Regions from separate parts of the Homo sapiens genome. Here region 1 is linked to region 2. The links come from fine-mapping of genetic effects on gene expression. Tissue or cell type: whole blood. Region 2 holds a variant in brackets; the other region holds the start of a gene. All regions are shown on one strand. Distances are between the middles of the regions.

Region 1 (4,389 bases), 48 kb after region 2:
CCAAGCTCCTGCTGCTCTGGCTTATGATACAGGGTCAGGCTCCAGCCATCTCAATACTGACTCAAGCATTGTGTCCCACAAACGCTTCATCTACAACTTACTAAAATGACCTCATGGATGAGTGGTCTCGTTTTCTGAGCTGGGTCCTTTTTGAGGGGTCGAGAACACATTTTCCTGGGACCCTTTGTTTCCTTTGAAAACTCATTAGTTTTGGCAAGAACAAAGCGGAAAATTATCAGCGGTCATCTACAGCTAGAGAGGGCAGTCGGCTGAGAGCTGGCAAGCATTTCTTTAGGCTCTGATTTACATTGCATATGCTTGAAGAGCTATTACTCATTAGCAAAGGGAAGATCTCACATCTTGACTTCAAGGCCCGGAAAATCCAAGTATTAACTCTGAGTCCTTGCTGTGGATTCCAAGCCTGGTAAAGTTAAAGGAAAAAAAAAATGCAAGATGCAAACACGCCAACCCTCCACCACATTGCGTTTGTTTTCACAGACAATAGTTACCAGCAGACAGCGGGCCTCTCTCCTTAAGCCAAGGATAGCAACAGGGCCCAAGGGAACCTACGTCCTAGCTTTCCCCCTTTTTTTGTTGTCCGCCGTCTGCATGGTTAGGTCAGCTTTGGACGACTGGTGCAGGGCAGAATTCCCTCCAGGGGAAAGGGCTTGGCTGGGCCGATGCATGTTGGATTAGGAAGACGACAAAGAGTATACGCTCTACCGAGAATCAGTGACTCCGGTGGGCTGTGTGTGGTGTCACCAGGGAAAATGCTTGTAGAGGGAAATCCTGGGGTACACTAGCAGCCTCAGATGGGTTGGGGAAGGGATGGAGGGGGAGCTGTGCCCATTCCCCAGGCGGTTCTTACTGGGATCATGCGGACGCCCGGGTGGGAGGCTCCTTCCAGGACCCAGGCGCCCAGGGGCAACACCGCCGGGCTGCGGTGCGCGGGTAGCAGCGAGGACAGGAAGTGCACGTTGCAGGCGGGCGGCTGCGGGGCCTGCAGGAGCGCGACGTCCTCCAGCGCGCTGAGCTCTGGGATCCCGGGGTACTCCCCGAGGAGCTCCCCGCCGTCGCTGTCGCCCCCCGCGAGCTTCGCCTTGACCTGGCCCTTGCAGTCGGCGCCCAGCGCGGGGTTGAACGCGTGCAGGACGGGTTCCTTGGGGTCCGCCGGGCCCAGGTACGCTTCTTTGAAGACGTGGAACTCGTCCTCCTCGTACTTCACGGGGGCCTTCAGGCCGATGTTCTCCGAAGCGAACGGACCCTCGGGGCTTAAGAGCTCCGTCACCATCGCATCCTCGGGGCTGGGCAGCCCGCCCGGCAGAGGGCCCTCCTCCATGGCGCAGGGCGGCGGGGCGGGATGGCGGGGGCCGCGCACCTGCAACACGCGGCCAGGTGAGAGGCAGCCAGAGGAGAGGACGAGGGGAGGGGCGGCCAGGAAAGGGGACAGCCAAGGGAGGGGCAGCCAAGGGAGGGGCGGCCAGGGGAGGGGACCAGGTGAGGGGCGGCTAGGGGAGGGGGCGGCCTGGTGAGGGAGGGCCAGGTGAGGGGCCCGGGGAAGGGCGACCAGGTGAGGGGGTCAGGGGAGGGGCGACCAGATGAGGGGCGATTAGGTGAGGGGCGGCCAGGTGAGGGGCGGCCAGGTGAGGAGCGACCAGGGGAGGCGGTCAGGTGAGCGGCGACCAGGGGAGGGGCGGCCGGGGAGGGGGTCACGGGAGGGGCGACCAGGGGAGGGGCGGCCAGGGGAGGGGGCCAGGTGAGGGGCGGCCAGGTGAGGAGCGACCAGGGGAGGGAGTCAGGGGAGGGGCGACCAGGTAAGGGGCGGCCAGGAGAGGGGCCGGCCGGGGTGGGGGTCAGGTGAGGGGCGCCCAGGGGAGGGGGCCAGGTGAGGGGCGGCCGAGGAGGGGGTCAGGTGAGGAGCAGCCAGGGGAGGGGGGGCCAGGTGAGGTGCGACCAGGTGAGGGGCGGCCTCGCCCACGGCCCGCCGCCCTCCGCCCACCCGCAGGGGCCCGACCCGGCCCGGCAGCCCCCATCCCCGCCTGCAGAGCCGAGGCCCAGCCCGGGGACCGCCCCGTCATTCCTCCTCGGAGGGACGCACCTGGGGCCGCCGGGGCTGCCGCAGCGTGGAGCGAGCGGGATGGGGCGTGGGCCGGGCCTCAGGCGCAGGCGGCCGTTGGCGGTTGGAGAAGGGGGAAGGGTGAGGGACAGGAACCTGGGGGGAGGGGAAGAGGCGCCCGGGCAGTGGGCGGGGCCTGGGCGTGGGGCGGAGTCGAGGTCGGGGCGGGGAGGTAAAGGCGGGGCCAGGGAGGTGTGGTGGGCGTGGTCTGGGGCGGGAGGAGACAGAGTCGCGAGGGGCGGGGCCTGGACTGCCGCTGTTGCCAGAGCGGGTCAGGGGAGGCACTCCCAGGTTCAGCCGATCCAGGCTCAGGTGGGGAAACTGAGGTCCCCATCAACTCGGGCAGCGCTAAGTGGGACTGCCTAGCTTGGCTTCTGACCTTGGGCTTCAGTTATATTTTTCTGGCCAGGCGTGGTTGCTCACGCCTGTAGTCCCAGCACTTTGGGAGGCCGAGGCAGGCGGATTACTTGAGGTCAGGAGTTCAAAACCAGCCTGGGCAACATGGTGAAACCCCGTCTCTACTAAAAATACAAAAATTAGCTGGCCGTGGTGGCACGCGCCTGTAATCCCAGCTACTTGGAAGGCTGAGGCAGGAGAATCGCTTGAGCCCGGGAGGTGGAGGTTGCAGTGAGCCGAGATCCCGCCACTGCACTCCAGCCTGTGCCACAGAGCTAGACTCCGTCTCAAAAAAATAAATAAAATAAAATAAAACATTTTTCTACACTCGAGCTCTCAAGACAGATCCCGGCCTGGGACGCTGCGGGTGGACAGAGGGCAGGGGCTTGCACCGCACGTTCCCAGCCTTGCACCCACTCCCGGTCCTTGGTGACGCAGCTTACAGGTGCAACTGATGGAGTTGGTCCCGAAATAGAAGTAACAAATACGGCTGGGCGTGGTGGCTCACGTCTGTAATCCCAGCACTTTGGGAGGCCGAGGCGGGTGGATCACCTGAGGTCAGGAGTTCGAGACCAGCCTGGCCAACATATAGTGAAACTCCGTCTCTACTAAAAAATACAAAAACTAGCTGGGCGTAGTGGCGCACGCCTGTAGTCCCAGCTACATAGAAGGCTGAGGCTTGAACCTGGGAGATGGGGGTTGCAGTGAGCTGAGATTGTGTCACTGTACTCCAGCCTGACCAACAGAGAAAGGCTCCCTCTCAGAAAAAAAAAAAAAAACTCACAAATACAATGAAAGTCTCAAATTTTGGGTGGGGAATGAGCTATTTCATCTTTAAGGAGTCAATAGATATCACTGTTTAATCAAGAGGAGGTGAAAGTTTAATTCAAGTGATGGCGAAAACTGCAAAGGGTGTAGAGGGACTGGTGGGAGTGGGTGCTGGGGAGACAGCCTCAGGTACTGTCTACTCAGGTACTGTTTTGGTAAAAATAAAGAATGTAAAACATCAGCTTTCTAATCTCACTTTTAAAAATTAAATACTTTTCTAAATTTTTAAAGGGTAGTACCCAAGGCACAGCAACACCGTGTACTATTTAGTTGTACATTTAACATTCAAAAATCAAGAAAATTTTGCCTGGGGCTGGGCGTGGTGGCTCATGCCTGTAATCCCAGCACTCTGGGAGGCCAAGGTGGTCAGATCACTTAAAGTCAGGAGTTCAAGACCAGCCTGACTAACATGGTGAAACCCTGTCTCTACTAAAAATACAAAATTAGCTAGGCATGGTGGTGCACACCTGCAATCCCAGCTATTTGTGAGGCTGAGGCAGGAGAATTGCTTGAACCTGGGAGGCGGAGGTTGCAGTGAGCTGAGATTGCACCATTGTACTTTAGCCTGGGCAAAAAGATTGAAACTCCATCTCAAAAATCAAACAAACAAAAACAACAACAACAAAAAACACTCACAGAAGCAGAAAAAATAATAAAAATAATAAATCGAAGAGCCCAAGAATTATGCATAGCTTGAGTGGCCCAAGCGAGAGAGTAACCCACAAGGTTGCACCGTTCATTCGTTTACTAATCAGAATCAGACGTCTACTGAGTAGCATCATGCCAGGCATACACAGCCACCTGTGGGGGTCACCCACGGGTTGCAATCAAGCCTGGAGGCTCTGCACCTGCTGCTCCTAGATGCTTGCTGCCCTGCTGCACTGGCCGGGCTGGCTCCGTCGAGTCTCTCAGGTCTCAGCTCAACCCACTCTAAGTGGGTCAACCTCCCTGCCAGCTACCACCCCCTCCCAATGATCCTCTTAGTTGCCTCAGAACACTTAAAATCCTTCAACTGGTTGGCTTGTTCTCTTTTTCCTCTGTGATATGGT
Region 2 (4,389 bases):
CACTCTTTTAAACATTGTACTGGAATGCCTAGTTAATGCAATAAGATAAGAAAAGGATATACGAAGTTTACAGATTGGGAAGGAATAAATAAAGCTTTGTTTGCAGACGTCATGATCATCTATGTAGAACTCTAAAAGTATCATCAACAACAACAACAAATGTCCTGGAATTAATAAGCAATTATAGCAAAGTTGCAGGATACAAGGTTAATAAACAAAAGTCAATAGCTTTCCTATATACCAGCAATGAACAAGTAAAATTTGAAATTAAAAATGCAATACCACTTACGTTAGCACCTCCCAAAAATGTAATACTTAGGCATGCATTTACCAAAACCTATATGAGGAAAACTATATAACTCTGATGAAAGAAATAAATACAGAGCTAAATAAATGGAGAAATATTCCATGCTTGTGGATAGGAAGACTCAATATTGTCAAATATTAGTTCTTCCAAATCTGATGTATAAATTCAACACAATTCCAATAACAATTCTGGCAAGTTATTTTGTGGATAGCAAAAAACTGATTCCTGGGCCAGGCATGGTGGCTCATGCCTATAATCCCAGCACTCTGTGAGGCCAAGGCAGGAGGATCGCTTGAGCCCAGGAGTTTGAGACCACCCTGGGCAACATAGTGAGACCTTGTCTCTATAAATAATAAAAAAAATTAGCCAGGCATGGTGATGTACACCTGTGGTCCCAGCTGCTCAGGAGGCTGAGGCAGGAGGATCAGTTGAGTCTGGGAGGTCAATGCTGCAATGAGCTATGATCACATGCCACTGCACTCCAACTTGGACAACATAGTGAGATCTTGTCTCAAAAACAACAAACAAACAAACAAACAAACAAAAAACCTGATTCTAAAGTTTATGTGGAGAGCCTAAAGACCCAGAATAGCCAAAAAAAAAAAAATGGAAAGAAAAGAACAAAGTTGGAAGGCTACTATAAAGCTACAGTAATCAAGATGGTGTGGTGTTAGTAAAAGAATAGAAAAATAGATCAATGGAACAGAATAGAGGGCCCAGACTCATACAAATAGAGCCAACTGATATCTGACAAAGGAACAAAAGCAATACCATGGAGAAAAGACAGCCTTTCTGACAGAAGGTGCCAAAACAACTGAACATTCATATGCAAAAAAAGACTAGATAAAGCCTCTTATCCCTCTCACAAAAATTCATTCAAAATAGATCATAGACCTAAATGTAAGTTGTAAACTATAAAATTCCTAGAAGATTGGCCAGGTGCAGTGACTCACACGTGTAATCCTAGCACTTTGGGAGGCCAAGGTGGGAGGATTGCTTGAGGTCAGGAGTTCGAGACCAGCCTGGCCAACATGGTGAAACCCCGTCTCTACTAAAAATACAAAACTTAGCCAGGTGTGGTAGCAGGCGCCTGTAATCCCAGCTACTCAGGAGGCTGAGGCAGGAGGGTCGCCTCACTTGAACTCAGGAGGCGGAGGTTGCAGTGAGCTGAGATTGCCCCACTGCACTCCATCCTGGGGGACAGAGAGAGACTCCATCTCAAAAATAAAATAAAATAAAATAAAATCCCTAGAAGATAACACAGGAGAAAGTATGGATGGTCTGGATATGGCAATGATTTTTTAGACACTATGCCAAAGGCATGATCCACGAAAAAAAAAATTGATGAGCTGGACTTTATTAAAAACTTCCGTTCTGCAAAATACACTGTCAGGAGAGTGAGGAGACAAGCCACAGACTGGGAGAAAATATTTGCAAAGGACGTATCTAATAAAGGACTGTTATCCAAAATATACAAAGAATTCTTAAAACCCAACAATAAGAAAAGAAACAACCCAATTAAACAATGAGCAAAAGACCTCAACTGACATCTCACCAAAGAAGATATGCAGTTGGCAAGTATGCATATGGACATATGCTCAACATCATATGTCACTGGGGAACTGCAAATTAAAATGGCAATGAGATACCAGTACACACCTATTAGAACCGGCAAAATCCCAAACACTGACAACGCTATGTGTTGGTGAGGAGGCGGAGCCACAGAAACTCTCATTCACTGCTGGTGGGAATACTCAATGAAACAGCTTCTTTGGAAGAAGATAGTGGTTTCATGCAAAACTAAATATATTCTTATTACATGATCCAGAATCATTGGGTAAATCCATTGATGTTTACCCAAAGGCATTAAAAACTTGCATCCACACAGAAACCTACATACAGATATTTACAGCAGCTTTATTCCGAGTTGCCCAAACTTGGAAGCAACTCAGATGTTCTTCAGGAGGGGAAGGGATGAACAGTGGTATATCCAGACAATGGAATATTATTCAGTGCTAAAAGGAGATGAGCTATCAAGCCATGAAAAGATATGAAGGACATAAATGCATATTACTAAGTGAAAGAAGCTAGTCTGAAGAGGCGACCTACTGTATGATCCCACTTAAGTGACATTCTGGGAAAGGTAAAACTGTGGAGAGAGTGAAAATATCAGTGATTGCCAGGAGTTGTGGGGAGGGAAGGATGAACAGGCAGAGCACAGGGGTGGTTTAGGGCAGTGAGACTGTTCTGTGTGCTGTAACCCTGGATATGTGCCATTGTACATTTGTCAAAACCCATAGCATGTGGAATAACGAGAGGGAATCCTAA[C/T]GTCAGCATGGGCTTTGGGTTTGTGGTGTATCACTTTGGATGATGGTGTATCACTGTAGGTTCATCAGTTGTAACAAAAGGACGGCTCTGGTGAGGAATGTTGGTAGTGGGGAGGCTGCGGTGTTGGGGGGCATGGATTATATGGGAAATCTCTGCACTTTCTGCTCAGTTTTGCTGTGAACCTAAAACTACCCTAAAAAATACTCTAGTAAAAAAAATAAATAAATAGAGACCCAGCATGGTGGCTCACACCTGTAATCTCAGTGCTTCAGGAGGTCAAGGAGGGAAGATCATTTGAGGCTAGGAGTTTGAGGCCTGGGCAATATAGCAAGACCCTGTCTCTACAAAAAATAAAAATACAGAAACTTAGCTGAGTATGATGGTGTGAGCCTGTAGTTCTAGCTACCTGGGAGCATTGCTTGAAGCCAGGAGTTTGAGGCTGCAGTGAGCTATGATCGCACCACAGCACTACAGCATAGGCAACAGAGTGAGACTCTGCCTCTATTAAAATATATATATTTCTAGGGAATCATCATTAAAAAGGTTGTCACTGCAGACTCTGTCTTCATAATTCGGTAATAATGTTTCTATAGTCCATCTATTTCCAACAAACATATGAAATGGTTTACAGTAAAAGATGTATGTAATAGTACAAATAAAAAGCATGTTTAAAAAAGTAAAGCTTTATGGAAAAAAGAGAGGGACAGTTAATCCTAAACCTGGGCTAATGTGATTTCTGGTATTGAATAGATTTACTTTTGAATTTCCTGAAAGTCAAGGCAAAATTTAAAATATCAAACATTAAAGTTTTTATTAAAGTTTGTTGTTGAAAAACAAACCAGCTACCATTTTTAGGAGGCTCAAACTTTTTCCTGATAGTCATTTTTAAATATATGAAGAGAACATCCATGCAATGACAGTCTTCAATTCCAGTTTTATCGGTGGCTGGGGCCGGGCAGTGCTCCCTGTGGCTCTCCAGTCTCTGCCGGGGGCCGGGGGTTGGGAGCAGGATGGAGGCAGGGCTGGGGGAAGATGCCTCACGGTGATCCCTCCTGTCGTGCTTCCTCCCTCCTCTGAGGCTAAGGACTCCTGGGGAGAGAGTGCAGCACGGAGACCGCACAGCCGGCCCCATGCACAAAGCTGTGCCCGGTGCCTTCCTAAAGAGCGCGCCGCCTGCAGAACGGGAGGCCTCCTCCCTGCTTCGTCTTCTGCGCCCCCTCCTGCTCTCTGGATCCTCTGGCTGCTCTGATCATTTTATCTTGGATGAGGGTTCAACCTTTGAATTCCCTAAGACAGTATTTTAACTGACTCCTTACGATAACTTGTTTATTATGGTTTGAAACCGCGCCCACACTGAAAGGGGACCAGTGCTGGCAGAACTTCAGGTACTGGTGAGAGGTTTGTAAAGGGATAGGAGCATCCAAGCCGAGATGAAAAATACACCAAGCCTTCTGCTGACCTTCCGCCGCCAACAGCACCTTCTCTCCTAAGGATGCTCCCTGGCCGCCAGACTTTCTGTGCAGTGCGCAGCCTGTGTTCACTGACAGGAAAGAGCGATTTCAGCGCGTGTCATTCTAAACAATGATTTCTTCTCCGTGTCTATGAAAAAACAAGGTTTTTTTTTCTTTCGGATAAACAAAACAAAAACCCAAAACCAACAGATAATCTAACCTTAATCACAAAGGTGGTCCGAGTTATTTAGTAGGTACAGAGTAGAAAGATATGGTTAAGGCTGGGCGCGGTGGCTCACGCCT

What was found.
Region 1: it holds the start of TESMIN, and the variant in region 2 is fine-mapped to the expression of TESMIN in whole blood (TOPMed, PIP above 0.99).

What each region holds. Positions count from the first base shown.
Region 1 is chr11:68,749,322-68,753,710 of GRCh38, forward strand. TESMIN (testis expressed metallothionein like protein) reads right to left here and starts at 2,199. Exons shown (of 10, transcript NM_004923.3): 1 at 2,099-2,199; 2 at 869-1,378. The coding sequence starts at 1,339. RefSeq lists an enhancer at 1,326-2,311 and silencers at 2,012-2,301, 2,312-2,431.
Region 2 is chr11:68,701,376-68,705,764 of GRCh38, forward strand. It overlaps a transcript of TESMIN not described here. Among named protein-coding and RNA genes, the nearest start is that of GAL, 19 kb to the left of the region's middle. The variant C/T (reference allele first, on the strand shown) is at 2,636.